Regions from separate parts of the Homo sapiens genome. Here region 1 is linked to region 2. Evidence: fine-mapped expression QTL. A gene starts in region 2. The other region holds a variant in brackets. All regions are shown on one strand. Distances are between the middles of the regions. Region 1 holds the start of MYLK-AS2 (MYLK antisense RNA 2). Region 2 holds the start of MYLK (myosin light chain kinase).

The links. PIP is the estimated chance that this variant, and not a neighbour inherited with it, causes the effect. A credible set is the group of variants that fine-mapping cannot tell apart.
Region 1: its variant is the best candidate, but not a certain one, in a credible set for the expression of MYLK in whole blood (INTERVAL, PIP 0.79).

Annotation. Positions count from the first base shown.
Region 1 is chr3:123,682,476-123,698,555 of GRCh38, forward strand. It overlaps MYLK (myosin light chain kinase), which reads right to left. Exons shown (of 34, transcript NM_053025.4): 19 at 10,260-10,376. MYLK-AS2 (MYLK antisense RNA 2) reads left to right here and starts at 7,169. Exons shown (of 3, transcript NR_046629.1): 1 at 7,169-7,241; 2 at 9,102-9,359; 3 at 9,764-9,932. LOC105369194 (a long non-coding RNA gene) reads left to right here and starts at 10,341. Exons shown (of 3, transcript XR_924417.4): 1 at 10,341-10,447. RefSeq lists an enhancer at 11-828. The variant G/A (reference allele first, on the strand shown) is at 9,783.
Region 2 is chr3:123,876,761-123,892,840 of GRCh38, forward strand. It overlaps MYLK (myosin light chain kinase), which reads right to left and starts at 7,572. Exons shown (of 34, transcript NM_053025.4): 1 at 7,446-7,572. It also overlaps a transcript of CCDC14 not described here. RefSeq lists a silencer at 7,452-7,611.

The sequences.
Region 1 (16,080 bases), 190 kb before region 2:
CCATGAGAGCATCAAAGAAGGACCGTCCACTACCCTGGGCCTGATTAATCCAGTGGGGACAGCACCGTCACCTTGGCAAGATGAGCGCACAGGCTGCCCAGGGAGCTTGGGATGCTCCCCCGGAATGCCATTGCTGGCAGAGTCACCCCTTGCTCACCTTCCCTGGCTTTCTCCTCCATCAGGCCTTGTCTCCCTCATGCTAGAAATCTTGGGTCTCCTCTCCAACAGGGGCGGGAGGGGACAGGGTCCCCGCCCTTGGGATCATGGACTAGAGGTGGCGCACAGCTTCTGATTTCTCTGACTTTCTTCTGCAGACCAAACTTTGCAGTGACAAACCAAACGGAGGCCTCTGAGCACACAGCCAGCATGCCTCCCACCTCTGAGACGGGGTCTAGGCCCCACTGTGGGGCTTCTGCTAGACCTCCCCCAACAGGCCCAGTGAAGCTGGGCACAGCTGCCTGCTGGGCGGACCTAAAGATGCTGGGCGGTGCCTGCCCTCAGGCTCTGTTCCACACTCCCTCTGCCAGAGGAAACCCTTCCTCATGGAGGGCAAGCAGGGCGACATCACTTGGCTGGGCTGGGCTGGGCTGGGTGGAAAGGCCCTCACTGGCCCCCAGGACACTATGGGGAAACCATCCAGGAACTGGGATAAGGAGGAGCTGGTTGAGTGGCTATCACTGGGCCCCAGCACTTTCACTGGCCTTCCTTTCCCCACAAGGAGCACTCTTTGGGGACGGCGCTGAGAGAGTCTCCCCCTTGAAGCCCCCTCCCTGGGCATCCTTTTCCTGCTCCTGAGGAGAGGAAGCTAAGTGGGGGTGGGGGTGGGTGGGGGGACTTTCCAGCAGAGGCTCCGCCACATTCCTGAGGCTTGGCTGGGGAGGAAGTGCCCTCTCATGGTCCGCCTCCAGGACTGGCAGTCAGGGCTGATCTTGCCTAGACTGGGCTCCTGGGGCTCTGAGGGGTGGGCGCAGGGAGCAGAACTGGGGGCTGGGAACATACTTCTCCCAGCAAGTGGACTCTGAGCTGCCTCTGGATGCATTTCTCCTTCTGGGAGGCATTTAGGCCCCTCGCCTTCTCCAGAACATGGATCTGCCTGCATGAGTCCCTCTGCTCATCATCACCCCGATAGGCTTTCTTCCCAACCTAGTGCCTGCCTCCTCTCTGCTATGGGTAATCCAGGGAGGAGGCCCTGTGCGGGTGTTGCAGGCTCATGGCAGCTCAGAAGCAGACAGGCCTCCGGGGGCTGTGGGGGCAATCCCCCACCAAAGACAGCCGAAAGCCCTGCATGCACCATTGTGGGCCTTAAGTAGGACTACTTAGCAGTATGTGACGGGGTGTTGGGGGGAGCAGACAGCCAAAGCAACCCTTTCAAGTAGCACTTGACACCAAAACGCTCCCTTGCCTCCACTCCCCACTGCAAGCTGAACTCCTGCCACCTCCCATACGGGCAAAGGAGCCCCAGATGGCACATCAGGGGTCCCTGCTATCTGGAGTGGACACTCTTAAGCTCCTCAGGAGGCTGCCTGTAACCCAGCATGCCAGTTCCATGAGGACACAGAGAAGCAGAAAGCCATGGGGCAGGGATGATTTCATTTTCTTACACTGGACATTTTCCCCAAGGATCGTGGTCATTCTCAGCTACAGAAAAATCCTCTGGACATAGTTATTTGTCAGCCTCGGTGGATCTCAGCCTCAGCTGTATGTTAGAAGCACGTGTGCCAGGGTATCACACCCCACAGGTCCTGGTTTCATTGGTCTGGGTTGGGGTCTGGGCACGATATGATCCAGAAGCTCCATGGATGACTGATATTTGGCCAACAGAAAACTCCTCGTCTCTCCTCAAGCACAGGGAGTGCGCAGGGAGTGGCTCCAGGACTATTCCAAGAGGCAGAAAAACCTAGCAGAGCCTCCCCTTGATATCTGGGGATGAGGGTGCCATAAACCAGGGGCATGGAGTCAGTCTAAGCTTCCCTTGTCCGGGCCTCTCCCTTCTTCCCTTCCTTGAAGACCAGCATTTCTAACAGTCACCAATGACAATGTAAAGAAAGGTGTACCCAGTAATTGTTTTGTTTGGCCCCTTTTTTTTTTTGAAATGGAATCTCACTCTGTCACCCAGGCTGGACTGCAGTGACATGATCTCGGCTCACTGCAACCTCTGCCTCCCAGGTTCAAGTGATTCTCATGCCTCAGCCTCCTGAGTAGCCTCCTGAGTACACGCCTGACTAATTTTTCGTATTTTCAGTAGAGATGGGGTTTCGCCATGTTGGCCAGGCTGGTCTTGAATTCCTGGCCTCAGGTGATCTGCCTGCGTCAGCCTCCCAAAGTACTGGGATTACTGGCGTGAGCCACGGCACCCGGCCCTTCTTAAGGAAGAGGAGTACAGGGCAGACTATGTATGCAGTTCTGCACTCCTTGGCTTCAGCACTCATTCTCCTGGTGAGTCTTGGAGCATAGAGGAGGGAGAAGAAGAAGGATCAGGTTTGCTTTTTTAACTGATGAGTAAGCTGAGGCACAAGAAAGCAAAGTATGAGAGGCCCAGTTTTCCTGGGCTCCTGAAAGAAGGGCAGCAGGTACTGAGACTCCTTTCGTCCTCATGGGGTTGTGTTGGGCTTTACTTCCAAGCATCACCACAGTAGAGGCCAAGAGAGTACAGCTCTAGCTTTGGCTTTGTCATCAGCAACCTTGGGAACTTGGGCAAATAATTTAAACTGTCCCATCTCTGTTTCCACATCTGTACAAGGGAATCACTTATTTTCTCTACCTCATGGTGTTTTGACGCCCAAAGGAGAGAACACATGCAACGGTGTTTTGGAAAGCAGGAAATGATCATTTATCAGCCCAGCGTGGTGGCTCACGCCTGTAATCCCAGGACTTTGGGAGGCCAAGGCAGTTGGATCACTTGGACCCAGAAGTTCAAGACCAGCGTGGGCAACATGGTGAAACCCCGTCTCTACAAAATTTACAAAAATTAGCCAGGCACTGTGGCATGTGCTTGTAGTCCCAGCTGCTTTGGAGGCTGAGGTGGGAGGATCACCTGAGCCCACAGAGCTTGAGGCTGCAATGATCGTGCCGCTGCAGTGATCATGCCACTTAACTCCAGCATGGATGACAGAGTGAGACCCTGTCTCCAAAAAATGAAAAAAAAAAAAAAAAAAAGAAAATGAAAATGATCACTTATGAATTAATTCCTCTTGATAGCCACATTCCCTTACCTCCTTCTGAATCAGCTTTAAAATTTTCCACCTTCAGAAAACACTCCCTGCCCTGCCCCATCTGCCTCTGCCTCCGTCCTCGGCCCTAGGGTGCTGGGTTTTCACTGGACGTGTCAGTACACTACCCTGTAATGTGCTTTGAGTCTTATTTTTAGAAGTTTCTGCAGCACTTTATCTTTCCATCTGGCCATGAGGAAAGGGGCTGAAGTCCCCCTTTCAAACTAGGCACACCCCAGACTCGGAGCCCCAGGGGGTGGCCGCGCTCCACTTGAAGTGTCAGCACGGTGGGGCTGTGCATGCACCACGGGGCCCTGCCAGGGATGCGGAGCCAGCAGACCTCCATGCGAACTGCAGCAAGGAGTGGGCTCGAAGGGCCATGTGCCTAATCAAAACCAGCTTTGTGCTCACATGGCTGCCCAGGGGATAAAAATAATAGTAATATAAGTTTAAGAGCAGCTTGTATTTTCTATTTTAATCATTTTGTGATGAAATTAAACTCCATTTCTAGATCTAGGCCCCCAAGGCTGAAGTCCTTTGCTTGTGTCCCCAAAGAAGTGTGGGGGAGGAAGATGGAGGTGTGAGGAAGTGGGGGGCCTCTACATTGAGAGGAAAATGTGTCCTTATATAGACAATGCCTCACCCCTCCCACTCCTGGGCTCTGGACTCAAGCTCTCTGGGCAGCGTTTTTTTTTTTTTAATCTCCCCCAAGAGGCTGGTTCCCTGAACTCTGACCCCACGCAGGGGGCATGAGGTCTTGGGAAGCTTCTGGGAGGGGTCCAGCTTCTAGGGGCCCCCAGTGGGGCAGGGCAGAGGGGCTGGGCTCCAGCCTCTCCCTGGGTTGGCTCATCCCTCCTTGCTGGCCTCTCTCTCTGACTGAGTGCAAGCAGTGTGCTAGCGTAGTAAGGAAGAGAGATCAGGATGCTTGCGCTTTCTGGCTCTGCTGCTTAGGAGTTGTGAGTCCCTGGGCAAGTTCCTGAACTTTTCTGAGTCTGAGCTTCCTCACAAGGAAAACCGAAATAACATCACCTCAATAGAAGAGTGAGGGAGGTGTGGCCAAGTCGTAAGGTGATGGCTGACATTTACTGGGTATTGACTCCATGTATGCACGGTGCTAAGTACTTTGTATGCTCAGATCAGGTTGAACTACACCATTCGCCAGTATTGAAGTGTTTTTGACCTACAAAAACAGCAATTTTATTTAGTTTCACATAATACCCGTTAGTTGTCTGTGATGATTTAAAGAATAAATGTGGGCCAGGCGCGGTAGCTCACGCCTGTAATCCCAGCACTTTGGGAGGCTGAGGCGGGTGGATCACCTGAGGTCAGGAGTTTGAGACCAGACTGGCCAACATGGTGAAACCCCTTCTCTACTAAAAATACAAAAATTAGCTGGGCGTGTTGGCGGGTGCCTGTAACCTCAGCTACTTGGGAGGCTGAGGCAGCAGAATGGCTTGAATCCAGGAGACAGAGGTTGCAGTGAGCCGAGATCATGCCACTGCACTCCAGCCTGGGCAAAAAGAGTGAAACTCTGTCTCAAAATAAATAAATAAATAAATGTGGGGGTGGGAGCAGACTTAGTAATATGGCAGGGCTGAGGCCAAGAAAGGAGGGGTGGATCAAAATCAGCTCAGCAATAATCAGAAGTGCCCAGGGGCCAAGATAACAGTGGATCACAGTGGTTAGGCACCAAGGCTTGGGTTTAACTTCCCACTCTGCTAGTTAGGGTGACCTTGAGCAGGTGACTCAGTCTCTGTTTGCCTGAGATGAGGCTATTGTTACTATCACTCCCCTGAAGCCCTCTTGCAAGGTCACCAATGACCTCAATGTTGGCAAACCCAATAGCCAGTGCTCAGGCTCATCTTTATTTGGCAGCAGCACCTGACCCTTCCTTCCTTCCTTTCTTCCTTCCTTCCTTCCTTCCTACCTTCATTCCTTCCTTCCTTTCCTTCCTTCCCTCCTTCCTTCCTTCCCTTTCTTCCTTTTCTTCCTTTCTTCTTTTTTTTTGACAGGGTCTCCCTCTGTCCCACAGGCTGGAGTACCGTGGTACAATCTTGGCTCACTGTAGCCTCAACCTCCCATGCTCAAGCTGTCCTCCTGGCTCATCCTCCTGAGTAGCTGGGACTACAGGCATGCCCCACAGCATCCAGGCAACTTTTGTATTTTTTGTAGAGACAGGGTTTCACCATGTAGCCCAGGCTGATATTGAACTCCTGGCTCAAGCAATTCACCTGCTTCTCAAAGTGTTGGTATTACAGGTGTGAGCCACCACACCTGGCCTGGCACACTAATCTTGATCATTCCTTCCTTTTTGAAGTTCTTAGCATTTGGTTTCTGGGACACCCCCATCTCCTGGGTTTCTTCCCATCTCACTGGAGTACTTCCTTCTTAGTCTTCTTCGCAGGCCCCTGTCCTGCCCCTGCCTCTCTCTCTCTCCCTCTTCTTATAGCCACCTCTGTACTCTCCAGGGACCTCATTCAACCCCAGGGCAGTGAATGGCCTCTGTGTGTGGATGGCTCCCTGTATCCCACCTCCAACTCTGACCTCCCCCTCAACTCCAGGTTCACCTAAACACCTGCCTATGTGACAGGACCGCTTGAGAGGTCAAATAGCAATCTTAAACTTCACATGCACTAAACTCTTGATCGTGCCCCCCAGCCCCACCATTGGTCTTCACTCCCCCATGAAAACTGAGTCATCTTTAACTTCTCTCTCTCTCCATACCCAGCTCACCAGCAACTCATATCAGCTCTACAGCCAAAGAGGTTATGAATCTGATCACTTCCTGTCCCTATTGTGGCAACCCCCCATTGTGCTCCCTGCTTTCCCTCTGACTCATCCTGGGTCTGGTCATCACATGGACATGAGTGATCCTTCATAAATGTCCAGTGTTGGCCCATAACACTTAGAATAAAATCTCATTTTTTTTGTCCTAGCCAACACTGCCTGGATCTGGTCCACGGTCCTCCTCAACCTCACTTCCTACCATCCTGCCCCTTGCTCATGGCTCCACCACCCTGGCCTCCTGCCTCCTGAAACGCCTTAAGCACAGTGTCCTCAGCTCAGGGCTATGCTCTTGTTGTCACCTTGTCCCTCTTCCTTCCCTGCTTCCTTCAGTCTCTGTTCAAATGTTCCTTCCTCAGAGGGGCCTCAGTGACCACCCCCTCCAAAAATGGTATTCTCTCCCCCATTACCCTGCTTTGCTTTCTTCATAGCTGGTGACATTACCTGAGGATATGACACAGCTGTTCACCTGCATTACTGCCTCTTTCCCACTAGAAAAGTCCCAAAAGCTGGAACTTTTCCTACTTCATTTACTGTTTTAAAACCAGCTCCTATGGCAGTGCCTGGCACAGAGTGGGCACTCAGATATTAGTTGAATGACTGAGTGATGGCATGAGTACCCACTGGAGTGTCCCTTCCCATCACAATCATGCATGACCCTCTGTGGTCACAAAGCCCTGGTCTCACTGGTACCAAAAGCTGGATGCCCTGGCCAGGGTGGCTGGGGACAGGAGGCCTGAGTTGAGAATGACTGGATGAGCCAGTGAGGGGCTAAGGTGTTTTTTGAGTCCTCTCATGGGATTCTGGCCTAGGAAGGACTTAGTTTCCTCACTGCTCATCTGGGTTGGAATGAGAGGAAAGGGGTTACTGAGTCCCACGTGCAGAAGGACCTCCCCACAGGGAGGACTGTTACTCAGGGAGGTCTGGATCACTCTGGGAGCGGGCCCCACCATGGTAATTCACTGCCCGGGGAGGCTGTGTCAGGCTGTGGAAAGGAACAGGTTTCAGAGCCAGACCACTGAGTCCTGCCAGGATATTTCATGTTGTAATTCACTGTGCAGGGTGGAGCCCCAACACCAGATCTACACCTACTGTCTGTGGGGCCTGGAAGGCAGCTGACCCTTGGTGAGCCTCAGTTTGCTCACTGAGAAAGACACCCTGCCCAACTGTTGCATAGACTGAAAATGCAAAGTGCACAAGAGTCTCTGGCCAGGACAGGCATTGAAGGTCAGCTTGTTCTCCTCCTGGGTGAGTTTTCGGGCAAGTCCACGTTTACTCTAGGTTTTAGCTCCCTTCTATGTGGCACAAGTTAACCCTTGTCTTCTGCTGAGTTCAGAAGGAAGGGTGATATGACCATAATCAAGCAAGTTCATAAACACCCCTTTTCTTAGGAAAAAGACCCAAACACATGATTAAAATAGCCAGCTGTGCTGTGTTATAAAGGTTACATCCCTTATCTTTATGATATGAGGGAATCAGTAGTGTGGGTAATGCTATTTTAGCCCCATTTGCCTCATTTTTATGAGATTTTGAAAGATATGTTGGCCTCAGATGTATGGTCTCGATGGTGTTTGGCACAGGATGAGTGAATGATAGCGACTTTCAGGGGCCAGGCCAGCCCTGCTGAGTGGCTGGGGAAGCCAGTCTGAAGTCAGCACCAGCTGTAGTCCCATCGCCTAGTGGAGATGGACCTCATTGCCCCATAAGAGGGATGAAGGCCTGGTTCTATGCAGAGGTTGGGTGGGCAGTTGCAGCTGGAGACAGGCTGGAAGAGCCCACACAATGGCTGGGCTTGAAAATTCAGTCATTGTTGCTGCTTACGGCAAGTAGTTCTTCAACGTATTCTGATTCATGACTCCTTTTGAGAATTTGACTAAAAACTATGGACCCCTCTCTTCAGAAAGATGCTCCAACCCACATAATGCAACATTTTGCCTGTAATTTCAGGGGAGGCACAAACCCACTGGGATCCCCAAGTCAAGTATGATGCCTTGGGGAGTAGGGAGAGCTGAGGGGATGAGGGGACAGAATGAGGGCAGGAGATGTAGCCTAGCCAGTGGGGTGGAGCACCAGACGATAGAAAGGCGACAGGGGAGCTGTCAAAGTGACAACAGTCCTTTACTACTTTCCTAGAGAGGCTCTTGATGAAAAAATAAAGCTAAATGTGGGCAAACAGGATGCTAATATATCTGTAAGTATAGCAACAGGGAAAGAAAAGCAGGGGGAAGAGGCCACCCTTATCCTTTCTGTCAACAAAACCAAACCCAATGGACTGAGAGTCAGTCCTGTTATCTCAGCTGGGCTCCCTCCTATCACTTTTCTAGCTCTTCTTCCAAGACCCAGCTCCCAATTTGCAGCTGGAGGCCTAACTCTGCATTTGAAGGAATTAGGGATAAATAATGATGGTCATCAAGATTAGTGGAGAGGACAAGGGAATCTGCCAGCAGACTCTGGGCAAACAAAGCCTTTTAAGTTGCAGAATGAATTCCCCAAACCTTAAAAAAAAAATCCCCAAGTGTATTCAGTAGGGGAAAAGGAAATTTCATCTTGAAAACAAATCTAGAAAAGGTGCTGACATTTTACAGATAGGGAGAATGAATTGCTCTCCTGCCTTCAGCTAGCCATGTAAACAGGACCTAAAGAGGCTCCGAAAGCCGATAACCTCCTTCACTAGCTCGGGAACCAGTGTGAGTCCCAAACGAGCAGAGGGGTGTTAGACGTGGGCTTCAAGGATCATGTTTTCAGAAACGCTATACTTTACAGTGCAGCACCTGTATAGAAAGAAGCAGGACTGTGATCTGGGTGGGTGACAGCCTGGGTGAGGAGAGACTCCCACACAGGAGTCATCAGCCACAGCATCCACTGTGCAGAACCTCAAAATGTGTCCCATGCCCCCTCTGAATTGAGCATAAACTTGGACACATCAAGTCCGCTTCCTTAGACTCAGAGCCCCTATAGCACATATACGCACGATCTCCAAGGAGAAGTACACAGTATTAGATGAGTTCAGCTTACCTTTCGGCTATTAACAATTAATTCGTGCTGCCATTGTGTTTTTATAAAAAAGACTTTCTTTTCCACCTCTCTCCCATTCATCATGTTCCATAGAGCTCAGCTCTGTGATCAGGAAACCAATTGTAAAGTCCAGAATGAGGACACGGGCTCTACATGGTGTGGAATGGCAGTGAGACGGGCTAGGACTTCAGAACTCAACTGATCACACACAGGAGGGAGAAGAACAACCAAGCTGGGCTTCAAGATGCCTTATTTGGACACTAGTTTTTGATGTGTCTCTGATGGTTATTAACCAGACATTTCAAGGGCAAGAAACTATTTCCCCAAAACTACCTTTTGAGACATTTCCAGGTAAGTGCCAAATACAAAGAAATGATCCTGGGTTGTGAGTCCTGGGATGGGGTTCTGGCCCCAGCTTGGCCCTAAATGGGCCAGAGAGCCCCCCTCCAAAATGCATTTCCTCTCTGGATGCCCTCAGTTTCTTATCTGTAAAATGAGGGTGTTCATCTAAATCATCACGAGGTTCATCCTACTTCTCAGGTTCCAATTCTATACTCCCCAGGAAGGAGAGAAAAAAGAGTCATGAATGCACTTCCTGCATTTCCTTAGGACAAAGCCCAGTTCCTCGCAGCTTGGCACTGCCTCTTCCTAACACAGAAACTCCGCTAAGACCTGGCAGGCCTGCTTTCTCCCCGATGTGTCCTCCCACCTCCCTCTGCAGTATTATTATTACTACTACCATTTTGTTTTGGCAGAGGCTGCCCTGTCCTCTCT[G/A]TCCAGAGACTCAGCCCCGACTCACCTCCTCTAGGAAGTCTCCCACACGGACCTCGCTCTGCTCCCTCCTCCTCACGGCTGACCCTGCTGGGTCGTCCTGCCAGCTCGGACACTTGTTTGTTGTGGCTTTTGTAAAATACTCTGTAGTCATTTTCCTGTGGGTGTGTCTTTTCTACTGCCCAGTGCCCCAGCTTCCCAGCTCAGAAGGTTCTGGGTGTGGGGATCAGGACTGGGAGGGGGACAGGACAGCCAGGGGAGGGGTGAAGCCATGTAGGTGATCAAGTAGAGCTGCCACTTTCCTTCCTGTCTCTTTTTCTTTTGGCAAAAGATATTCATTCATCCAAAATGAATGCCTTTGGGTAGGGAGGGCAGTGTTGGAGGCAGTTCTGTCTGACAGGCAAGGTATGGTAAGGAAGGGAGGGGCTGAGAAATGGGACCCCTGTGTATGGGTGGCGGCGATGGGTGGGCACGACCTACCATCCACGGTGACTTGGCAGGAGCACTCCGCCTGGCCAGCGTCATTCTTGGCTACACACTTGTATAAGCCTCTGTCCTCAGGCAGTGCCTTCTCGATGGAGACGGAGCAGAGTGAGCCTGGGGAGGAAGAATTGTGGAGTGAACCAGGTGTGGTCGTAGTACCTGCCCTGGCATCTGGAGCGCAGCAGGTGAGTGTTACTCGCACGGGCAGCCTCTGGGAGCCCAGAAGCCAGAGGCCTTGTGGGAACCAATCCCCCACTCCTCACCAAAGCCAGGGAACTTTCTGCTTATAACCCATGTCCAAAATAACTGATCCCTAAATACGTTCCTTCCTGATACCTCCTCCCCCACTCCAAAGAGTCCTCTTGTGGGGACATAATAGAAAGCTGCAAAAGAAGGGAGAGAAATAGCCTCTGCCTTTGGAGACCATCCAATACAATACAAGGAGATGCACACAGGCCCTGCCCCCTGGACGTCACCAAGAGAGAAAAGGAGTCCGACACAGGGTTACAGACCTGTGTTAGGAACAGTGACAGGTGAGGAGGTCCCACTTTGTTTACAGCAGTGATGCTGTGACTGCATTCTGGAAAAGGGAGCTTTGAAGCTTTGAGCAAAGAAGTGGGTGGAGGAGGCTAGGAGCCCTTGTCCAGGAGGGGCACCGGCCTGTGGGAAGATCTGTTGGGAGGTGGTGACTACACCCAGGAGCTGACTTTTTAGGAAAGGTGTCTGAGCTGGAGAACCACGGCCAATGAGGGGGACTGGACCTGCAGAGGGGCCCTCTGGGGCTGCCTCCCTTCGGAGTTGGGTCTTCTGGTTGCCCCAGAGAGAAGTGGGGATGGCCTTTCTTCTCCATGGACTCTCCCCTGGGCCTGCCTTCACTCCCAGCACCATCTTCTGGCCTGGTTTGGGGAAGGAGGTGTCAGCTAGGCACACACAGGAATCTAGGGTCTCGTCCTGGCCCCTGCCAGCTCTCTCATCCCAGAACTGGTTACTTCTCCTCTGGGCCACCCCTTGGGGAGGTTCCCTCAGGGTGTGGAAAGAGGCCTGCTGGGCCAGGCAGAAGGGCAGCAGTTCCTTATTCTTGCTTTCAGATGCACAAACAAGTAAATAGCAGGGCATCCTGCTCAAAGCTGCCCCTGTTGTCAGGGAAGCAACCGTCACACAGGAGGACAGAGCCAGGGCCACATGCACTTTGCTGCCTGGAGCTCCCATCTCATGTCCCACAAGCCACTGGCATTGGGAGGGAAGAGCTGGGTGCATTCTGAGTGGACACCAACTACTGTCCCTGCCCCCCATTACACAAATGCACAGCCTTGACCAGCAAATACAAGGAGATTAGAAAGAGTAAGGATATCAGTTCTGCCCAGAAAACCTCACTAAGGCTGGAAGAGGAAGGAAGGGTGTAATATTCCCCTTTACTCCTTGCCACCAGGGTACTGTTTTAAACAGAGAAACCTTCATCCTATAAACCACCTGGGGCAAGAGGGCTGATCTGCACCCCACTCCCCACTTCCTATACCCTTATACAGACCCCAAACCTCGGGAAGGCTTCACTCTGTTCTCTTCCCTTTGTAGTTAGGAGTCAGAATTTGTAGAAACTGTAATGGAGAGGATTTAGGCTGGAATTTTAGGAAGTCTGTCATAAGAGTAAGAATCGTGAGGCACAGGAGTGGGGAATGAGGATAACCATGTCCTGGAGAGAGAACTTTCCATTCATCTGGGTGGGCGGGAGGATGCCAAGATGACCTCTGGCCCCAACTAGAGGGGCTCAGAGGCTTAGCAGAGACCAATCCCATCTGGAAATTTTCCCTCAAGTCAGGGTGGGGCTAAGGCTTTGGGAACAGATATCCCACCCCCAACGCACATCCTGTTCAAATCCTTGATTTTCTTTCAGTTTCAGTCCCTCAGCTGCCTTGAGTCTTAAGTCAAAATGATACAAGCTGCAAAGACAGTACACAGAGAGTAGAGGGGCATGTGGACCCGGCCCCTGCCTCCTCTCCCAGGGCAAGGCATGGGGCAGGCAGCTTTTCCAACCTGCCCAGAGCCTGGACCCCTGGCCATGTGCATGGGCTTGGGGAGGCCCCCCTAGCAGGCTTGCAGGCTTGGCTACCCCAGATGAAGAATCTGGTATTTCCTGTGGGACAGTTCATTCTTGACCTCTAGAAGAAAAGCTGTTTCCCAGAGGTTTTTTTTTGAGAAGCCTCAGCCTGGTGGGGAATTCTGAGAGGGAGATGAGGGGGATGGGAGAGGTCAGCATCACTGCAGAGCTCCGCCTGGGAGAGCCCCTCAGGGCTGTGGTGGAGTAAGCGCTCCTGGGTCTGAAGCTCCCCCAGCTCTCTCCTTTTCTGAGTTGGGGGCAGAGGGGAGGAAGGGGATGTGGATGGAGGGAGGGAGCTTCCTGGAGGCTCTGCTATAGGGCTGCCTCAGTCAGCCTACCCAGCCCACCTGGCAAGCCCAGACAGTAAGACTCATCTCCAGGTCACCCCTGCAGGCATGGTGTCCTCCTTGTTCCCCCTAATCCCCCAGGCCTAGGCGGACCTCTTCTGTGCTCCCAACTCTGAGCTCACCCATGTCAAAGCACGGCTCACAAGGCCATTGCTGACCTGCATGCCTGTCTCCCACACCAGCTCTCAGAGGGCAGTGACCCTGTCTAACACCACTGTTTTTCCTAAGCCTGGAATGCAGTCACAGTAAAACATATTTGTCATTCTGAGAAGGATGAAGGCATATTTCTGTAGCAGGTGATCTGGTAGGATCTATGTAAGAAAAGGTCACAAACAGTTAAATATAACTTACTATTGAAAAAGATAATATATAGTTTCTGAAAAAAGAAAATTCAGAGTTCTTTGAGTGGATTATGCACACAACAAAGGGCATTAGAATAATGCCTTGCTCATAGTAGATGCTGCATAAATCCATTTTTCGTAGGATGAACTTACATGGGTTTTTAAAAAGCCTTTGCAAAATTCTACCCTGAAGGCAATTAAAAATGAATTACCTATTCACAACAGCAACAAAAATGAATCCTCATTGTTAGACTCGGAAAAGTGTTTTGCCAGGAGGAGGAGCCTGGCCTGGAGACAGGAAACAAAGCATAAAGATAAAGCTCTTCTCAGGCCACCACAGAGCTCCCCTCAGCTCACGGGACCATCGGCCTCCCACCACCCCTCAGCAGAGGCAGGTCCCGGAAGGGCTAGGAAAAGACTTGGGGGCAGAGGGCAGGCCCAGTTGGTGGTAACTCTGAATCCCATCAGCCCTGCAGCTCTAGGGGTACAGGAAGAGGAAGGACACCTCCACGTGTCTGTGTCCTGCCACAAATCAACTAGTGGTGAACTCTAGCCCATGGCTGTCAAACCTCTTCTGCTTTCCTCAGCACGAAAGGGGGTGAACTAAATGGGGTGATGTAATCCTGTTTGGGTGGGGGTCTGTGGGCTATGAGCCCTATCTAAGCTACAGACATCAGAGAAGTCCCCTGAAACCTATAAACAGCACGTCCACTAGCAGTTGGTGCACGCAGATACACAGGTTGATGGGGAGGGGACAGTGCAAGAGTCTCTCGTGGCCAAAGGTGGGTGACAACAGGAAGGCATCCTGGAGGAAGTGAATCTTGTTTGTAGCAGAGCTGACAGGGTGGGGATCAGTGCAGTGGAGCAAAAAGGGCTCCAAGTCAGGAAGCCGGGGGCAGGGCCAGTGCTGAGCTGAGTGTGAAGGATGCAGGACGGGAGGCCAGCGGAGCCATTCCCTCACCTTCCCCTAGAAGCCTCCTCCAACCACCGGCTTCCTTATTCCCACTGACACGACCACTGAGACCCCAGCCACTCAGGCACCCACACTTAGTGGTCTTCCATTCCTTCATCTTCTTTACCTACCCCCACCCCCATCCTGCCCTTCCAAGCCAGGCAACAGGTGCCATTACTTCTATCCTTGCTTCTTGAACTGGTCATTCCCTGACTGTGGTTGTGGCTACTACGCTAGTCTAGGCCTCACCATCTTCCTCTCGACCTCTTCAGTAGGCTCTGTATTTGTCTTTTGGGCACAGAGTCCACCAAAACCCCTAAACTGAGCTTCATGTACAGTGTTCTTCATCCCAAAATCTTGCATGATTCCCTACTGCCTTTAGACTGGAATTCCTTGGCAGAATATAGGATGAAACTGGGGCCATGTCATCCTCTCCAGCCCAGAACAAGCTGTTAGCAGGACGCCTCTGCTGCTGCGGGGCCCCCGCCTGGAAGCCCGTCCCCTCTGGCCTGTCTTCGGGGCTTAGATCAAAGTCCAGCACTCAGCTCCCTCTCTTCCCACTTCCAGCAGCTCCTCCCGACACACTCATAGCACTTGTCAGCACTTGGCTGTAACAATTTTATCACTGTGAGTGTGTCTTCTCCTTCCACATCTATTGAGAAAAGACTCCCTCCACCTCTCAGAATGCCCTACTGCCTGAGGAGGGACCTGCTTAAATGGTGACTGATAGATGAAGCCTTAAGATAAGTTTTTTCCTTAACAAAACACTGGGCTCTTGAAGTCTTGGCGAGTGAAGGGACAGAAGGTGGGGCCGATTTTTTGAGACAACGCACTCTCCTGTACTGAAGCAAGACAGGCCCATTGCAAGGTCTGCTTCCACCACTGCAGGGAAAATACCAGAAACCTGGCAAGGCTAGGGGCACCATCAGTGTTTCAACCTTTGGACAACTCTTAACAAAATCGAGGAGTAAATAGTCATTAGTGTTTTCTGTTGATAGACAAATTCTCAGCTGCCACCAGTACCCTGATAAAATAATAGGAATTAACTAAGAGGTCATATAGCACGGTGGTCTAGGCACGGGAACTCAGCCACCTGAGTTCAAATCCCAGCTCTGTTACCCCCAGCACCTTGCATTTGGCAAGGTACTTAACTTCTCTGTTAGGTGGACAGTACAGTCATTGTTGGGAGGATTAAATGGGTGAAAAGTGTAAGAGGCCTAAGATAGTGTCTAACACATAGTGTTCAACATATGTCAGCTATTCTTTAAACACAATTTAAAAATATTTAGAAGATGTCTTACAGTTTGATTTGGGGCTCTCTCTGGAATCCCTTTCCACCTCTCCTGGTCTCTCTCTCCCCTTCGTGTGCAGCCTTCCTTGGATCATTTCTTCTGCTGCTGCTCTGGATCTGAACTGTTCCCTCTGGGACGGTTTCCATGGGAAGGGAGGCTGGAGTGGCTAGGATCTCTAGGCTCTTTACCACTAAGGGACCAGCAGGGAAAACATACTGCAGGCACTCAGGGCACGAGAAGACAGTGGCTAATGGCTCAGAAGAGTTTCTGAGACCAGGCCTGGGGTCTGCCTTACATCGCTTAGTTGAGTGAATTGTTTGTAAGTGGCTGTTGATGGCTCTGGGTTTAAACCCCATGCAAGCCCAAGAACAGCTGCCCCCAACTGACTTAACCTCAGTTTCCCTGAGGCTGGAGCAGCCACAGACCTCCCAACGCCAAACCTGCTGAGACCCTGAAGCCCATGGGCAGCGCCAAGCCTGATGAGAACCTGAAATCCACTAGCAAAGAAGAACTCAAGAAAGATATTAAGAATGATGCGAACTGCAAGAGAGGCCATGCAGGGACCACAGATAATGAAAAGAGATCAGAGAGCCAGGGGACAGCCCCAACCTTGTCCTGAGGATGGTGGATGCCACCCTGCATCCTGCCTGGAGAGATCACCGTAGGGTGACCTGGGAAATGTTCCCAGTCAGGGTTTCCAATCAGTTTTACCAAGGACTTTCCAAGTGGGAGAGCCCCACAGGGGCGGCAGGACAGGTTGTGGCGTCTGCTCCTCTGAAGTCTCACCCCAG
Region 2 (16,080 bases):
ATAGATTATTTTTCAAACAAGGTTCCCAAAGAGATTTTGTTATCAGCCAGTTCTGGAACCACTGCTATGAGGAAACAGAGGCATTAACATGTCCTTCCCTTGATGTTTTTTCAGTATAGTTACAGATATAAAATTTTAGCATGAGAAAAATTAAACAAATGATAAAAACATACCATAATAATTTATGACTTGTCTCTGTAAAAAGAATTTTACAGGGACTTATTTCTAGAGAAGTTGAGGCTGAAAAGGTCAGAGGCAGCCTCTGGGGGCAGTATCTGACAGTTATTAGGAACTTAACTCATTCCCTGAACAAATGTTTAAGGATAGAAGAACCTGTCAATCAAACAGACAAGTGAAGAATATTCCAGGTGAGGATGAACTCACAGTCACAGTCAGAGACACAGGAAAGTATCAATTGGGCTGAGACAAGAAGTCTGGTTGTAGTGGGATCAAGGAGTGTGGGGGTGGCTGCTATGAGACTGGGCTTGGAGGTCAGATTATAGAGGCCTGTGAATGGCTTAAGGCTGTTCTGTGTGAAACAGGGAGCCACCGGGGGTTCCTGAAGGTGGTGACACAGTCAGACTATGTTTTAGATCAACAAAGCAATCAAGTGTACGATGTATTTGGGCTACAGAGAAGCCACAGTTAATACTCCAAGTGTGAGCTAGTACGGTCTGGTCAGGAAAAAATAGTAATATCAAAGTAAAACCAAGTGTTTCTCTGCCTGGGATAATCAGCAGGCCCACAGGGGAGGAGCTGAGTCCCTAGGTGCCTGCCCAATCACAATAAGAAGCCTGAGAACTCCCTAAAACATACTATTGGGTAACATCAGTAGCAACTGCGTTGATTGTATCATGTATACCATGAGTGACTATTGGAAAGGCAGGAGCTTTTGATAGTAATCAGAGGCAGGTTGCAAGATAAGAACTGTTCCTCCAGGCACGTTCTAAAGCCACCTGCTGCTTCCTCATGAACATACTCGTTTCCACAAGATCAGCAACCAAGTGATTACGAAAATGATCACCCTGTTGACACTAATAGGAAAATACCAAATGGAAATTTAACTTGGACAATGGGGAAGTTTAGGAATACATCTGCTTGAGTCATGTTCTGTGAATGGACTCAGTACTTGGCTGGAAAGATGCATAAAGCTCAGGAGAAAAGTTAGAATGAAGTATACCTAGCCCTACAGAAGACATAACTGAAGAAGTGAGGTGAATGAGTGGAAAGTGCCTTCTCATGGAGTGGCACACAGCAAATCCCTTAGAATCTTCTCTGAGCACCTCCATTTACCCCATTAGCCAGTCCTTCCACCCAGATGTACTGAGCACCTGTGGTGTGTCAGGCACCAGGCTATGAGTAAGGATACAAGATGAACCACAGCTGGTGACCTCCAGGAGCACAGTGCCTAGCAGGACACTACCCTTACGACCACAGCACAAGCACAGGTTGCCAAGCACGTGTTCATCTGCCTACAGCCTCATCAGATGAGTAGAGAAGGGCTTCTCTGTCCATTTAAAGGTGCACAATCTGAGACCTGGAGATACCACGTCACATAGCAGAAGACAGTGCTGAAGCTAGCCCCCAAACCCGGGGCATCTTCCTGGTGTTTCCCACAGCCTCAGATGACATTCCATGTAGTCTGACCCCAGGAAAGGGGAACAGCACTCGGTATCCAGGGGCCCTGAAGCAGACAGATGGCAGTGATCACAGGCCAGATAAAGGTAGGACATTCACTCCTGCTCCCCATTGGACCCTCAGACTAAAGAGGACAGCCTTAAAGGACTCTAGAGAAGCAGGTGGGCAGATGAGGGAACCAATGTGTATCCATTCTTCCTGCCTATGTCAGGCCGTTCACCTTCCTATGCCATCACCATCCTCCACCAGGATAGGTAGTGATGAGAACTCTGGCTGATGCTGGCTCTACTACTTGGATTTTTTTTTTAGACGAAGTCTTGCTCTTGTTGCCTAGGCTGGAGTGCAGTGGTATGATCTCAGCTCACTGCAACCTCTGCTCCTGGGTTCAAGTGATTCTCTTGCCCCAGCCTCCCGAGTAGCTGGGATTACAGGAGGCTGCCATCACACCTGGATAATTTTGGGATTTTTAGTAGAGATGGGGTTTCACCACGTTGGTCAGGCTGGTCCTGAACCCTGACCTCAGGTGATCCACCCGCCTTGGCCTCCCAAAGTGCTGGGATTACAAGCGTGAACCACGGTGCCCAGCCACCACTTGGCATCTTAGGCCAGAGTTTCCTCTTCAGTCCAATGCAAAGGTCAAGTGGACCTGACCCTTAGTCCTAACACCCTGTGATTCCAGAACTAGGAAGTGAGCTACAATATATGAGGCATGAAAAGAGAACACAAAGCCCCAGAAACCCAAAAGTCTTCTACGGGCCTCTGGGCTTTCACTCTGGCCACCCAATTGCCTCTTAATATTTTTGATCGAGTATAAAATAAAACAATTTCAGATGTTTCAGAAATATTATTGGCAGCAGAGGGAAAACAAGGCCAGAATGAAAACCACCCCCAAAATAAACCTCAGGACAAGCACACCTGCATGTTTGGGAGTGCGCTGCAAGGTCAAAGGTGTTGTGCCAGGGCCCAGCAAGGAAGGAGCTAACAGCCTTCAGACACCGGAGCCAAATGTTCCTGCCTTCCTCTCTCCTGGCAAATGCTTACCCTCCCTTCCTCCTCTCCATTTTTGAGGCCTTCCTGCATCACTCTAGCCCCTGAATTTCTTGTCATCCTTTAATTCTGTTAATGAAACTTGGAAATTGCATGTTGTCCCTGTTTTCTAATTACCTATGTGTTAGCTCTCTTGCTACCCACCCAGAGTCTCTTAGCATAGACACATTACCTTTGTTTTTTGTTGTTGTTGTTTGTTTGTTTCTTGAGACGGGGTCTCACACTGTCGCCTGGGCTGGAGTGCAGTGGCGCCATCTTGGCTCACTGCAAGCTCCGCCTCCTGGGTTCATGCCATTCTCCTGCCTCAGCCTCCCGAGTTGCTGGGACTACAGCCGAGTAGCTGGGACTACAGACGCCCGCCACCACACCTGGCTAATTTTTTGTATTTTTAGTAGAGACGGGGTTTCACCGCGTTAGCCAGGATGGTCTCAATCTCCTCACCTTGTGATCCACCTGCCTTGGCCTCCCAAAGTGCTGGGATTACAGGCGTGAGCCACCGTGCCTGGCCCACATTTACCTTTGTTTTATAAGCCTCTACAGAGCTCAATAGAAAGTAGACATCATTAGTGTCTGCTGGTTGATTTACAAGTCATTATATAGACCTGGAGAACACTGCCCGGTATATATAATAAAAGCTATTCTTTGTTTTGTGCCTATTTATATTCCTATATTCATTTAATTTTTATAACCGCCCTCATTGTCAGATGACAAAACTCAAGTCAGCTCACAGAGGTTAAAACCCATGCCCAAGAACACCCAGCCAGTAAGTGAATGGGATGGAACTGAACCCAAGTTTAACACCAAAGATCACATTCTGCCTGGCTGCCTCCTCCTGCCAGAAACCTGAATGAGACCTACTATACATCAGAAATCCTCATCTCTGAAAACAAGAAAGGTAAACAGCATCCTCAACTATAAAAGCCCCAAGTTGCAGGTGTTCGGTTCCCCCAAAGATTATGAGAAATAACCCATAAGGTCCTGGATTAACAAATTAGCATCAGATCTGAGCGCCCAGAGCCAAGGGAAAAAAAATCAAGAAGCAGGTCTGAAAGAAAAGGAAATCCTCTCCTCATCCCTTTTCTTTTGTCTCCAAAGGGGCTTTCTGTCTCCAGAGGGCTCTGCACTGAAGACCCAGGGAAGGAGAGGAGCAGAGGGTGGAAGGGGGGCAAGGAAGTACCAACAGAGGGGGGATGGGGACAACGTGGGAAATCTAAGAAGCTGGATCTACACAAAAATTTCCACAGCTCCCTAGTGGGGTGCCCATTCACCCTCAGACACTGAAGTACAGTGAGCAGGAGGGCAGGGAAAAGAAGGTGGTGGGAGCATCTGGAAACACAGCCTTACCTTCCAGCCCATGAGGCAGCAACTGTTGCTGGCTCTCCTCCTGCCCCAGCTGACTGGGCTGGCTGTCAGTAAATTTCATGGGGGCTGCAGCCCTCACACACCAGGTGCATGCAACAAGGAGGAGGGATGCACCTGTTGGCCCGCAGTGCAAATACGGAGGTCCACCCACCTTGAGTTTGTGAGGGGAATGCATTTGCTCAACCTGTTGGCATCAAACGAATGGAAAAGTGTGCAGCCAAAACTCAAGGAAGAATAAAGAGAATCCATCTGCAGAATGGTGCAGGTGGGAGAGGGGCGTGGCTTGTATGGGCACTGCTTCCCCGCACAACCATGTCTGCCTGCTTGTAAGGTAGGAGGCTGGGGGAGCACAGGGAAGAGATAGAAGTCACATGGCATAGGAGCTCATCACAGTGACATCGTTCTGTCCCACTCTGGCTCACTGCTGGACGGTTCCTTGATTCTGAGCACTCAGGCCACCCAATAGACCCTGCTCAGGCCTAAGCATCCACATGGACATTTTCCATGCAAATGGCCCTGCCTCATGTCCTCTGCATGCACCCTCTGCTGGCCAAGTTGAGCGAGGACATTGTCTTTTGTTGGGAAAGGATACTTTTTAAGTGTTGTTTCTAAATTTTACTACATTTGCTGAAAAGACAGGACAGGAAGCTTTTAAGAATGAACAATCTCCCAGCCTGTGTGGGTTGGTTTGAGCTGTGAGAGGTGCAGCTGGGCTTCCAAGTAGGCTTATATTTCCAGACTCCCAAGTATTGTTCTCAGAAAGATACTAAATAAGACACCCCATACTCATGGGACACTGTACCCATGTCCCCAAGCAAGGCTGCATTCTGAAACCCCCACCCCACCTTATGAACTTCCTAAAAGACAGACAAGCCAACTAGTTGTGTTTCAAACTCTAGGCTCATCTTATATTTTGAGGATAAAAGCAAGGGGTCATTCTCAAAGACACTGAGTATATGGTGACCCCAGCGCATTCACAATCTATGCCTCTGAGACCAGCAAAGATCTCCCTAGCCAGAGACCCAGAACCTTTCCCCACCCTTGGAACTCAAAGGCCTCTCCCCTCTGCACCATCTGGGTCACCTCCTTCTCTGACAAGCCTTCTCAGCAGATTACCCCCGCCACCTGCCAGCCAGGAGCCCCTCCTCTGCAGTGACTGTAGCTGTCTGTCTACCATTTTCAGGCAGCAGGTGGGGCCACCTGGCCTTACCAGTTAGCCTAGGAATGTTCCAAGGCCTAGTCTGCTCTGCATATGTTTTCTAAGATCTGGCCCCTGGGGAAGCAGCCCCTGATGAAGGGGTGAGCAAACCTCACACAAACAGCAACTACTCTGGCTGGGTGCAGTGGCTCATGCCTGTAACCCAGCACTTTGGGAGGCAGAGGTGGGCGATCACTTGAGCCCATTAGACTAGTATGGACAACATGGTAGGACCCCATCTCTACAAAAAATCCAAAAAACTAGCCAGGTGTGGTGGCACACACCTGTAGTCCCTGCTACTCAGGAGGCTGAGGTGGAGGATTCCTTGAGCCTGGTAGGTCAAGGTTGCAGTGAGCTGAGATCACGCCACTGTACTCCAGCCTGGGCAACAGAGCCAGACCCTGTCTCAAAATAAAAAATAAAAATAAAAATAAGACAAGGAAACATCTACAATGCTGCAGCTACCCTCCTCCTCAGCTAGCCAGTTATTACACAAAAGAAACTGAACATGGGAGATAAACCAGCATAAATGCTTCCCCACTGTGGGGTGGTTCTCCAAGCTCATGCTTAGCTGCAAATGAGGTCCAGCATCCTTTGTATCATCAGTGAACAATGAGACAGACCTGCACATCTTGGCAAAAAAAGCTCTTGTGCATGTCCCCAGAGTACCCGCTACCCAATCCAGCATCCAGAGTCCAACCACTCCGGACCCAGGACCAACTGCTCAGGTTCCTCCCAGACCCAAGGCTCCTGGCCCACTGAGAGTGGGAGAAAAAGGGGTAACCTCACTCTGGGCAGGAAGGAAAATTCCATGCTGCCCTAGAGCACTGTGGTGCCAGCAGCATCATCCTCCACAGTCCCACAGTGTGCAGGCGGGGAAGAGACTAAGAGAATCACGGAAGAGAGAAGGAGGTCAAGAATTTAAGAGAAAAGAAAACAGTTCTATTAGAACCCTAAATGCCTTGTAGGAACCTAGTAAAGTCACCAGATGCACCTACACTTCTCCCAGAGACTTGCATTGTTGATTCCTGATTCTTTGAAGTGTGGGCGGGGTTCCCCAAATGGTCCTCCTAAGCCCACCATCTGGAAATAATTTATTGATAAGTGCATTTTGACAAAAAGTATTCCATTCAGGTGGAGAAGAACACAGCCTCTCTTGGAAGGGGGATGCAGCTCCAGGGCAGGCTCTCAAAGGCTGTGGGGTGGGCGGGTCATTGCATATACTCTGGTCTTTGCACTTGGGGAGAGGAGGGATGGTAAAAACCAACGGCCTGAGGTCTGGCATCATGCCCACTGCCCAGGTGTTTCCCTACACCCACCCAGCTCCCTGAATCACAACAGCTAATTTTACTCCCTCTAGACTCTAGTAGAGCTGGGTCTTCTCCTTCTGGCTACGAAATAGAAAGTGCCCCGCACCCCAACACACACACCCCAATCTAAAAAAAATATATATCCTTGAAACCATTTCCCCATCAGCCCATCTTCACATCTGCAATGCCACTCCTAGAAATTCAGTCCTTTGGGTCTTGAAGGGTTTTAGTTCCATAAGTTCCAGGGAGGGGTCTACCTCAACCATTGACAACTCACATCTCCTGAGAAGTTTATCCAAAACTTTCCAACTGCAATCATCGGCGAACAAGGTCCCTCAACAATGGGACCCCAGTTAACGCGAAGGAGGCAGAGCGAGGTAAGGAGCTTAAATGAGGAGTATGGAGTAGGAACAAGTCTGCAAAGCCCGCGCCCCAGCTTCGCCTGGGATGGCCAGGTCTGGCACTCGCGGGCCGCCTTCCCCGCCCTACCTTCCCGGAATCACATTTGGGCTGGAAGGACCTTCACGTGGCACCCCCTTCCCAGAGGCCGTCACCGAGTCCTCTAGCGAGGGTCTGGGAGCTGGGAGAAGGGTCCGCTTCTCCTCCGCCCCTCAAATCAAAGGCACCCCCTTCGGATGATTCCTAGAAAGGCAATCGCATCAGTGTCCCCAAGCACTTCATCTCCCCAAAAGAAAACTCGTGCAGCCTGGCGTCACTGGGGTCGTCTCCTTACGCCCCTGACTCCTCGCCGCACCCCGGGGCCCCTCTCCATTAGGGGAGTCGGGAGGCACAGACGGTGGGGGTCCCAGCCCCCACCCAGAACTCCCACCCTCGGAGCCTTGACTTCCAGGGCCCGCGCCTGGACAAAAGCATGGGGCGGGCTCACTCACCCGCGCGGCGAAGGCGGCCCGGGAGCCGGGGCACCGGCGCTCGGCGGGGCGCCCCGGCCGCAGGCGCACAGCGCGGGCTCCGAGCTCGCTCAGCGCCCTGCTGCCGACCGGGCGGCGCGGGGAGCCCGCGAGGCGCGTCCGGGACTGGGCAGGGCGGGGCGGGGCGGGGCGGGGCGGGGGTGAGCGAACCGGCGAGAGAGAGAGCAAGTGGGAGAGCGGAGAGCGGACGCGCGCTGAGGAGAGCGAGTGAGAGCGCGGCGCTACGGGGTCAGGACTCAAACCACCCGCTCCAGCCCCCATGCACTGATTTGCATGACATTTGCATAGCGCTCGGGGAGTGGACCTGCTGCCCTTCCCGCCACGCCCACCCGCCTTCTGCCTCGGAGTCCGGAGCGGAGAATCCGCAGCCAAACCTAGCGCCAGACCCGGGCCCCCCTCGCACTTATCCTGCACCGCCCCAGTTAACTCCTCGCAGGCGGCGGTCAGCGGGCTGGTACTGTCTTGGTGCGTGTCTTAGTCCTACACTGGGAGACCTAGGCCTTAGGTCGGGGTCTGATGCTAGCTTCGTGAGCGTGCATGAGACACTGGCTGCCTCTGGGCCTCAGTTTTCTAATCTGTAAAATGAAGATGTCAGCGGAACCATGGGGCTAAAGTTTTAGTGCTGGAAGGTTGTCTATGTAGTTTTTTTCAGACATCCTCCAGTGGTGCAACTCAGCCCCATGGTTCCTCTGACATCCTCCCTTTGTGTGTGTTAAGAATCTCTCATTGGTTTGGAAGATACCTACAAAGTTCTTTAAATTAAAAAAGGGGAAAGGGGAGGGGGGGGAGGGGAGGGGGAGGAGGTGTTTCTGGTTTTGGCTTGCTTTATATTTAGTTTGCACCCAATATGAAATATTTTATAGCTTCTGATCTCTTCACTTGGACCTTCTTTTGTTTTTTTTAAAAAAACTGTTTACTGCAGGTTAAGGAGTGTTTTTAAAAATTTTTTAATTGTAAAATAAAACATAAATACAGAAAACCACAAAAAACAAATATATAGATATATAGACTAGTGAATTATTATAAAGGGAACATCCTTGTAATCACCACCTGGATCAAGAAATAGAACTCTGCCAGCCACCCCAGGAGCCTCTCCATGTGCCCTACCTCAATGACAACCCCCTTTCTCCCTCCTCCCAAAAGTAACCACTAACCTGACTTTCATGTAGTCACTTCTGCTGCTTTTGTTTTTCTTGGTATCTTCCAAGGGTGCACCTTACCCCTCCCCCCACTCTTTTTTTTTTTAATTTGATTTGCCTTTTCAGTCTTTTCCTTACAATTATTTGTTAAATAACTTAAGCCCTTGATCTGTGAGGTTTTCCAGAGTCTGGGGGTTGCACATTCATGAGGCAATTCAGCATGTTTCTCTGTCCTCTGTATTGACAGCAAGTTGGCAGCTGATCCAGGGTCTTCCTCAGACTGAAGTTTGATGTCTTTTGTAAGATTATAGATGGTTGTGTGTTCTTTTCTTCAAGAGGTACATGATCATGATGTCTGGTGTTTGCTCTTTTTTGAGGTTAACAGCCGTCGATGCTCAATTCCTAGATTCATTAATTAATTGAAGTTTGCAAAATCATGGTATTCTAATAATTTTGTTTTCATTTATTAGTTCATAAGTGGATAAGGAGATGCTTCCTCTCATCTACTATTTGATTACCCTGAGATAGGAAAGGCACGATGAATACCTGCTTTTTTTTAAAAAAATTACCCAGTTTTCAAGTTAAGGAATTGATTCTCTGTCATTCTTAGATTTCTTTAATATCATTATAAATTCATGAATTTAAATATATTTGATAGGTTTCCATCTACGATATTAGAGCTCAAATTGTCCCATCTTTGGCCAGTAGGAGCTTCTTCAATATGGCTCCTGGCTCCTTTTGATAAGATTCTAGTAGTCTTTTTTTTTTTCTCTCTCTCTCTCTCTCACTAGTGTGCAAAGAGCTTCAAAGACCCTAGAAGTCTTTGATAGCTTCCTTGCTATCTGATATGACAAGATGTTCCAGGCACATCTGTACATTTGCTGCCTCAAACCTGGAATCAGCCATTTCTCCAAGAAGCTCTAGTTTTTTTGTTTTTTCTTTCCTTCCTTCCTTCTCTCTCTCTTTTTCTTTCTTTTTTTCTTTCTTTCTTTCCTTCTTTCCTTCTTTCCTTCTTTCTTTCTTTCTTTTCTTTCAGATGGAGTCTCACTCTGTCACCAGGCTAGAGTGCAGTGGCACGATCTCGGCTCACTGCAACCTCCACATCCCTGGTTCAAGGGATTCTCCTGCCTCAGCCTCCTGAATAGGTGGGATTATAGGCACGTGCCACCACACCCAGCTAATTTTTGTATTTTTAGTAGAGACGGGGTTTCATCATGTTGGCCAGGATAGTCTCAATCTCTTGACCTCGTGATCTGCCCACCTCGGCCTCCCAAAGTGCTGGGATTACAGGCATGAGCCACCCCGCCTGGCCAGAAGCTCTAGTTTCTTTTGTTGAAATTTTAAGATAACAATATGAGCACTAGGAGTATTCATTGTTACTAGGTTGGTAACTGTTTCTAGGCCTTTTCAATAGACAGAGCTACTAAAGAATACTTCATTTTTTTATATTCTAGAGAAATATTATTCTTCATAATATTTTCATCAGTTTATATTATTTCCAATTTAATTTCAGGACTGTAGTTTTTACTTAACATATATTACATTAGGACCTCTTTTCTTTCATGTAGAGAATTCTGGTTCTCAAGGACAAAAGGGAGGATGAAATTAGAATATCCCAATTTACTAATTTGCTTTAGTTTGCATTAAACATATAATAATAATCTCAGAATAACAATATTAATACTACCATCATCAGTTTTGATTCTTGAAAACAGTTTTTTTTGCATATGCTATCCATCTTTTATAGTTATACTCTATCTAAATTATCAGCTTCTATAGCCATCTATACCATAATCTTCCTATTTAACCCTAATTTAGTCTTAATTTTACAGTTCTACAATTCTAATCCTAATTAAAGTTCAAATATATATTTAATGCTTACCATTAGTTCCTTATGTTTATGTATCTTTAGTCATTTTGGTTGTCTGAAAGCTTGTCCTCTACTAGATTCCTTAGGAAGGGCTCATGGAAAGAATATGCTCTGAGTTCTTGCATGTTGCTTACAGTTTGTTCATGCCATTTTACTTGAAGGTCAATTTTGTTGGATTCAAACTACTTGGTGTCTTGGTCCAGCTGGGTTGCTATAACAACAACAACAAAAAAAAAAAACACAAAATAAGTGGCTTATAAACAAGAAACATTATTTCTTATAGTTCTGGGGGCTGGGAAGTCCAAGATCAAGGCTCCAACAGATTCAGTATCTGTTGAGAGCCCTCTTTCTGGTTTGTAGACGGCACCTTCTCACTTTGCCTAGATGCCCAAATAACTTTATCTTTTTCTTTCAAATCCAGTAATTTTATTAGAATGTTTGTTGGTCATTCTAGTTTGAAAGTAAACAGTGTGTATTTCTTTCAAAATGTGGTTTCAAATACATATATTTTGTTAATTTCAGGAAAATTTTCTTCAATTAAAGTCTTAAATATTTGTTCTGTTTTGGATTGCTTTAGACTGCTTCTCTGGAGACTTCTATTATCTGCATATTGAACCTTTTTTGTCTATCTTCAACATTTGTCACTTTCCCTTAAATCTTTTTAATTTCTTTCTTCATTTGTTTTTAAGTTTATAAATTTCCCTCCTTTTTACCTTATTTTCTTTTAAGTTTTTATTAGTTATATTTATGTGTTCTTGTGTTCCTTATAGGTCAATCTTTATTTCTCAAATGCTTTTTAAAATGTTTAATTCCAAAAAAAAATAAAAAATAAAACGTTTAATTCTTCTGTGAGTTCTGTTCTAATTTCTGAGTTTCTCTAATTCTGATGTATGTTGTTCTTTCATGTTTCATGTCACTCAGTGTGTATTAGCTTTTCTAGGACATTATAGCTTTAATTTTTTTGAGAATATCTTTCTGGAGGTTATTATGATCTTTATTCACTTTGTTGTAGTAGCTATATGAGAGTTGACCTTAGTATTTTTTTTGTTGATCATTTTTACATGAATTTTGTTTTCTTGAACTTTTAAAAGGAGATTTGGTCCAGACAGTTTTTCAAACTTCACAAAGCTTTCCCGTTTGTTGTTTCTGAGTAGTGTCAAAAAATATATATGGTGGCTGGACTTCTAAGATTTCCTGGCTCTGTTTCCCTCACTCACTTTTATCTGGCTCTTCTTTTTCTTTCAACTTGCATTAGTCAGTTTTCACACTGCTATAAAGAGCTACCTGAAACTGGGTAATTTATGAAGAAAAGAGATTTAATTGACTGACAGTTCCTCAGGCTTAACAGGAAGGATGACTAGGGAGCCTCAGGAAACTTACAATCATAGCAGAAGGTGAAGGGGAACCAAGTGCTTTCTTCATATAGTGGCAGGAGAAAGAGAGAATGCAGGGGGAAGTGCCATACACTTTTAAACCATCAGATCTTGTGAGAACTCACTTATTATCATGAGAACAGCAAGGGGGAAATCCACCCCCATGATCCATGATTTAATCACTTCTCACCAGGCCCCTCCTCCAATTCAACATGAGATTTGGGTGGGGACACAAATCCAAATCATATAATTCCACCCCAACCCCTCTCAAATTTCATGTCCTGCTCACATTGCAAAATATAATTATCCCTTCTCAATAGTCTCCCAATCTTAACTCATTTCAACATTAACTCAAAAATCCACAGTCTAAAGTCTCATCTGAGACAAATAAATCCCTTCTGCCTATGAACCTGTAAAATCAAAAACAACTTAGTTACTTCCAAGATGCAAGGGGGATATAGGCATTGGGTAAATGCTACCATTCCAAAAGGGAGAAATTGCAGCCAGGTGCAGTGGCTCACACCTGAAATCCCAACAATTTGGGAGGCCAAGGCAGGTGGATTACTTGAGGTCAGGAGTTCAAGACCAGCCTGGGCAACATGGTGAAACCCTGTCTCTACTAAAAATATTTTTAAAATTAGCCAAGTGTGGTGGCACGTGCCTGTAATCCCAGCTACTTGGAGGCTGAGGCAGGAGGATTGCTTGCACTGAGGAGGTAGAGGCTGCAGTGAGCCAAGATCGTGATACTGCACTCCTGTCTGGGCAACAGAGGGAGACACAATCTCAAATAAAAAAAAGGGAGAAATTGACCAAAACAAAGGGGCTACAGGCCTCATGCAAATCCAAAACTCAGCAGGGAAGTCATTAAATCTTAAAGCTCTAAAATAATCTCTTTTGAATTCATGTCTCACATCCAGGGCATGCTGATGCAAGGATGCTCTTCCAAGTCCTTGGGCAGCTCCACCCCAGTGGGTCTGCAGGGTATAGCCCCTGTGGCTACTTTCACAGGCTGGCATTGAGTGCCTGCAGCTTTTCCAGGTGCATGGTGCAAACTGTTGGTGGATCTACCATTCTGGGGTCTGAAGGATGGTGGCCTGCTTCTCACAGCTCCACTAGGCAGTGCCACAGTGGGGACTCTGTGTGGGGGCTCCAACTCCACATTTCCCCTCCACACAAACCTAGTGGAGGTTCTCCATAAGGCCTCTGCCCCTGCAGCAGACTTCTGCCTGGACACCCAGGCATTTCCATACATCCTCTGAAATCTAGGTGGAGGTTCATGAATTAGTCCATTTTCAAGCTGTTGATAAAGATATACGTGAGACTGGGAAGAAAAAGAAGTTTAATGGACTTACAATTTCATATGGCTGGGGAGGCCTCACAATCATGGTGGAAGTCAAGGCAGAGCAAGTCACATCTTACATGAATGGCAGCAGGCAGAGGGAGGGCTTGTGCAGAGAAACTCCCATTTTTAAAACCATCAGATCTTGTGAGACCCATTCACTATCATGAGAACAGCACAGGAAGGACCCATCCCCATGACTCAATCATCTCCCACCAGGTCCCTCCCACAACACATGGGAATTATGGGAGCTACAAGATGAGATTTGGGTGGGGACACAGAGCCAAACCATATTATTCTGCCCCGGCATCTCCCAAATTTCATGTCCTCACATTTCAAAACCAATCATGCCTTCCCAATAGCCCGCCAAAATCTTAAATCATTTCAGCATTAACTCAAAAGTCCACAGTCCAAAGTCTCATCTGAGACAAGGCAAGTCCCTTCCACCTATAAACCTGTAAAATCAAAAGCAAGTTAGTTACTTCCTAGATACAATGAAAGTACAGGCATTGGGTAAATATGGCCATTCTAAATGGGAGAATTTGGCCAAAATAAAGGGACTATAGGCCCCATGCAAGTCCGAAATCCAGCAGGGCAGTCAAATCTTAAAGCTCCAAAATGACCTCCTTTGACTCCATGTCTCACAACCAGGTCACACTGATGTGAGAGGTGGGTTCTCATGGTCTTGGGCAGCTCTGCCCCTGTGGCTTTGCAGGATGTAGCCTCCCTCTTGGCTGCTTTCATGGGCTGGCATTGAGTGTCTGTGGTTTTCCAGGCGAATGGTGCAAGCTGTCAGTGGATCTACCATTCTGGGGTCTGGAGGACAGTGGCCCTCTTCTCACAGCTCCACTAGGCAGTACCCTAGTAGGGACTCTGTGTCGGGGCTCTGACCTCACATTTCCCTCCCACACTGCCCTAGCAGAGGTTCTCCATGACTTCCCTGCCCCTGTAGCAAACTTCCACCTGGGCATCCAGGCATTTCCATACTTCCTCTGAAATCTAAGTGGAGGTTTCCAAACCTAAATTTTTTACTTCTGTGTACCTGCAGGCTCAACACCATGTGGAAGCTGCCAAGGCTTGGGGCTTGCACCCTCTGAAGCCACAGCCCAAGCTCTATATTGGCCCCTTTTAGCCAGCTGGAACAGCTGGGACACAGGGCACCTAATCCCCAGGCTGCACACAGCACAGGGATCCTGGGCCTGGTCCATGAAACCACGTTTTCCTCCTAGGCCTCCTGGCCTGTGATGGGAGGGGCTGCCACAAAGGTCTCTGACATGGCCTGGAGACATTTTCCCCATTGTCATGGGGATTAACATTTGGCTCCTGTTACTTATGCAAATTTCTGCAGCAGGCTTGAATTTCTCCTCAGAAAATGGGATTTTCTCTTCTATTGCATTATCAGGCTGCAAATTTTCTGAACTTTTATGCTCTGCCTCCCTTATAAAACTGAATGCCTTTAACAGCACCTAAGTCACCTCTTGAATGCTTTGCTGTTTAGAAATTTCTTCTGCCAGATACCCTAAATCATCTATCTCAAGTTCAAAGTTCCACAAATCTCTAGGGCAGTGGTAAAATGCTGTCAGTCTCTTTGCTAAAACATAACAAGAGTCACATTTGCTCCAGTTCCCAACAAGTTCCTCATCTCCATCTGAGACCACCTCAGCCCGGATTTCATTGTCCATGTTATTATCAGCATTTTTGTCAAAGCCATTCAACAAGTTTCTAGGGAGTTCCAAACTTTCCCACATTTTCCTGTCTTCTTCTGAGCCCTCCAAACTGTTCCAACCTCTGCCTGTTACCCAGTTCCAAAGTTGCTTCCACATTTTCAGGTATCTTTTCAGCAGCACCCCACTCTGCTGTTACCAATTTACTGTATTAGTCCATTTTCACAATGCTAATATGCTAATAAAGACATACCCAAGACTGGGAAGAAAGAGAGGTTTAATGGACTTACAGTTACTCATGGCTGGGGAGGCCTCACAATCATGATGGAAGGCAAGGAGGAGCAAGTCACATCTTACATGGATGGCCGCAGGCAAAGAGAGAGCTTGTGCAGGGAAACTCCCATTTTTAAAACCATCAGGTCTCGTGAGACCCACTAACTATCTTGAGAAAAGCACAGGAAAGACCCGCCCCCATGATTCAATCATCTCCCACTGGGTCCCTCCCACAACACATGAGAATTATGGAAGCTATAAGATGAGATTTGGGTGAGGACACAGAGCCAAACCATATCAGTTCCCAAAAACTCAACTCTTGCCTTCTGTGCACCCCCAGGCCCAACACAACATGGAAGCTGCCAAGGCTTGTGGGTTGCACCCTCTGAAGCAATTGTCTGAGCTGTATCTTGGCCCCTTTTAGTCACAGCTGAAGCTGGAGCAGCTGGGACTCAGGGTGCCATGTCCTGAGGCTGCACAGAGCAGCCAGGCCCTAGGCCTGGCCCATGAAACATTTTTCCCTCCTAGGCCTCCAGGCCTGTGATAGGAGGGGCTACAGTGAAGGTCTCTGAACTGCCCTGGAGACATTTTCTCCATTGTCTTCAATATTAATATTTGGCTCCACTCATGCAAATTTCTGCAGCCAGCTTGACTTTCTGTCCAGAAAATGGGTTTTTCTTTACTACCGTATGGTCAGGCTGCAAATTTTCTAAACTTTCACAAGAACAGCACAGGGGAAATCCACCCCCATGATCCAATCACCTTCCACCAGCCCCCTCCTCCAATTCGACATGAGATTTGGGTGGGGACACAAATTCAAACCATTTCACAACTCTTCCCTGTCATGTTAATTTTTTCACTTTTTTATTGTAGCAAAATATACATAACCCAAAATTTATAATTTTAACCATTTTTTTTTTGAGACGGAGTCTTGCTCT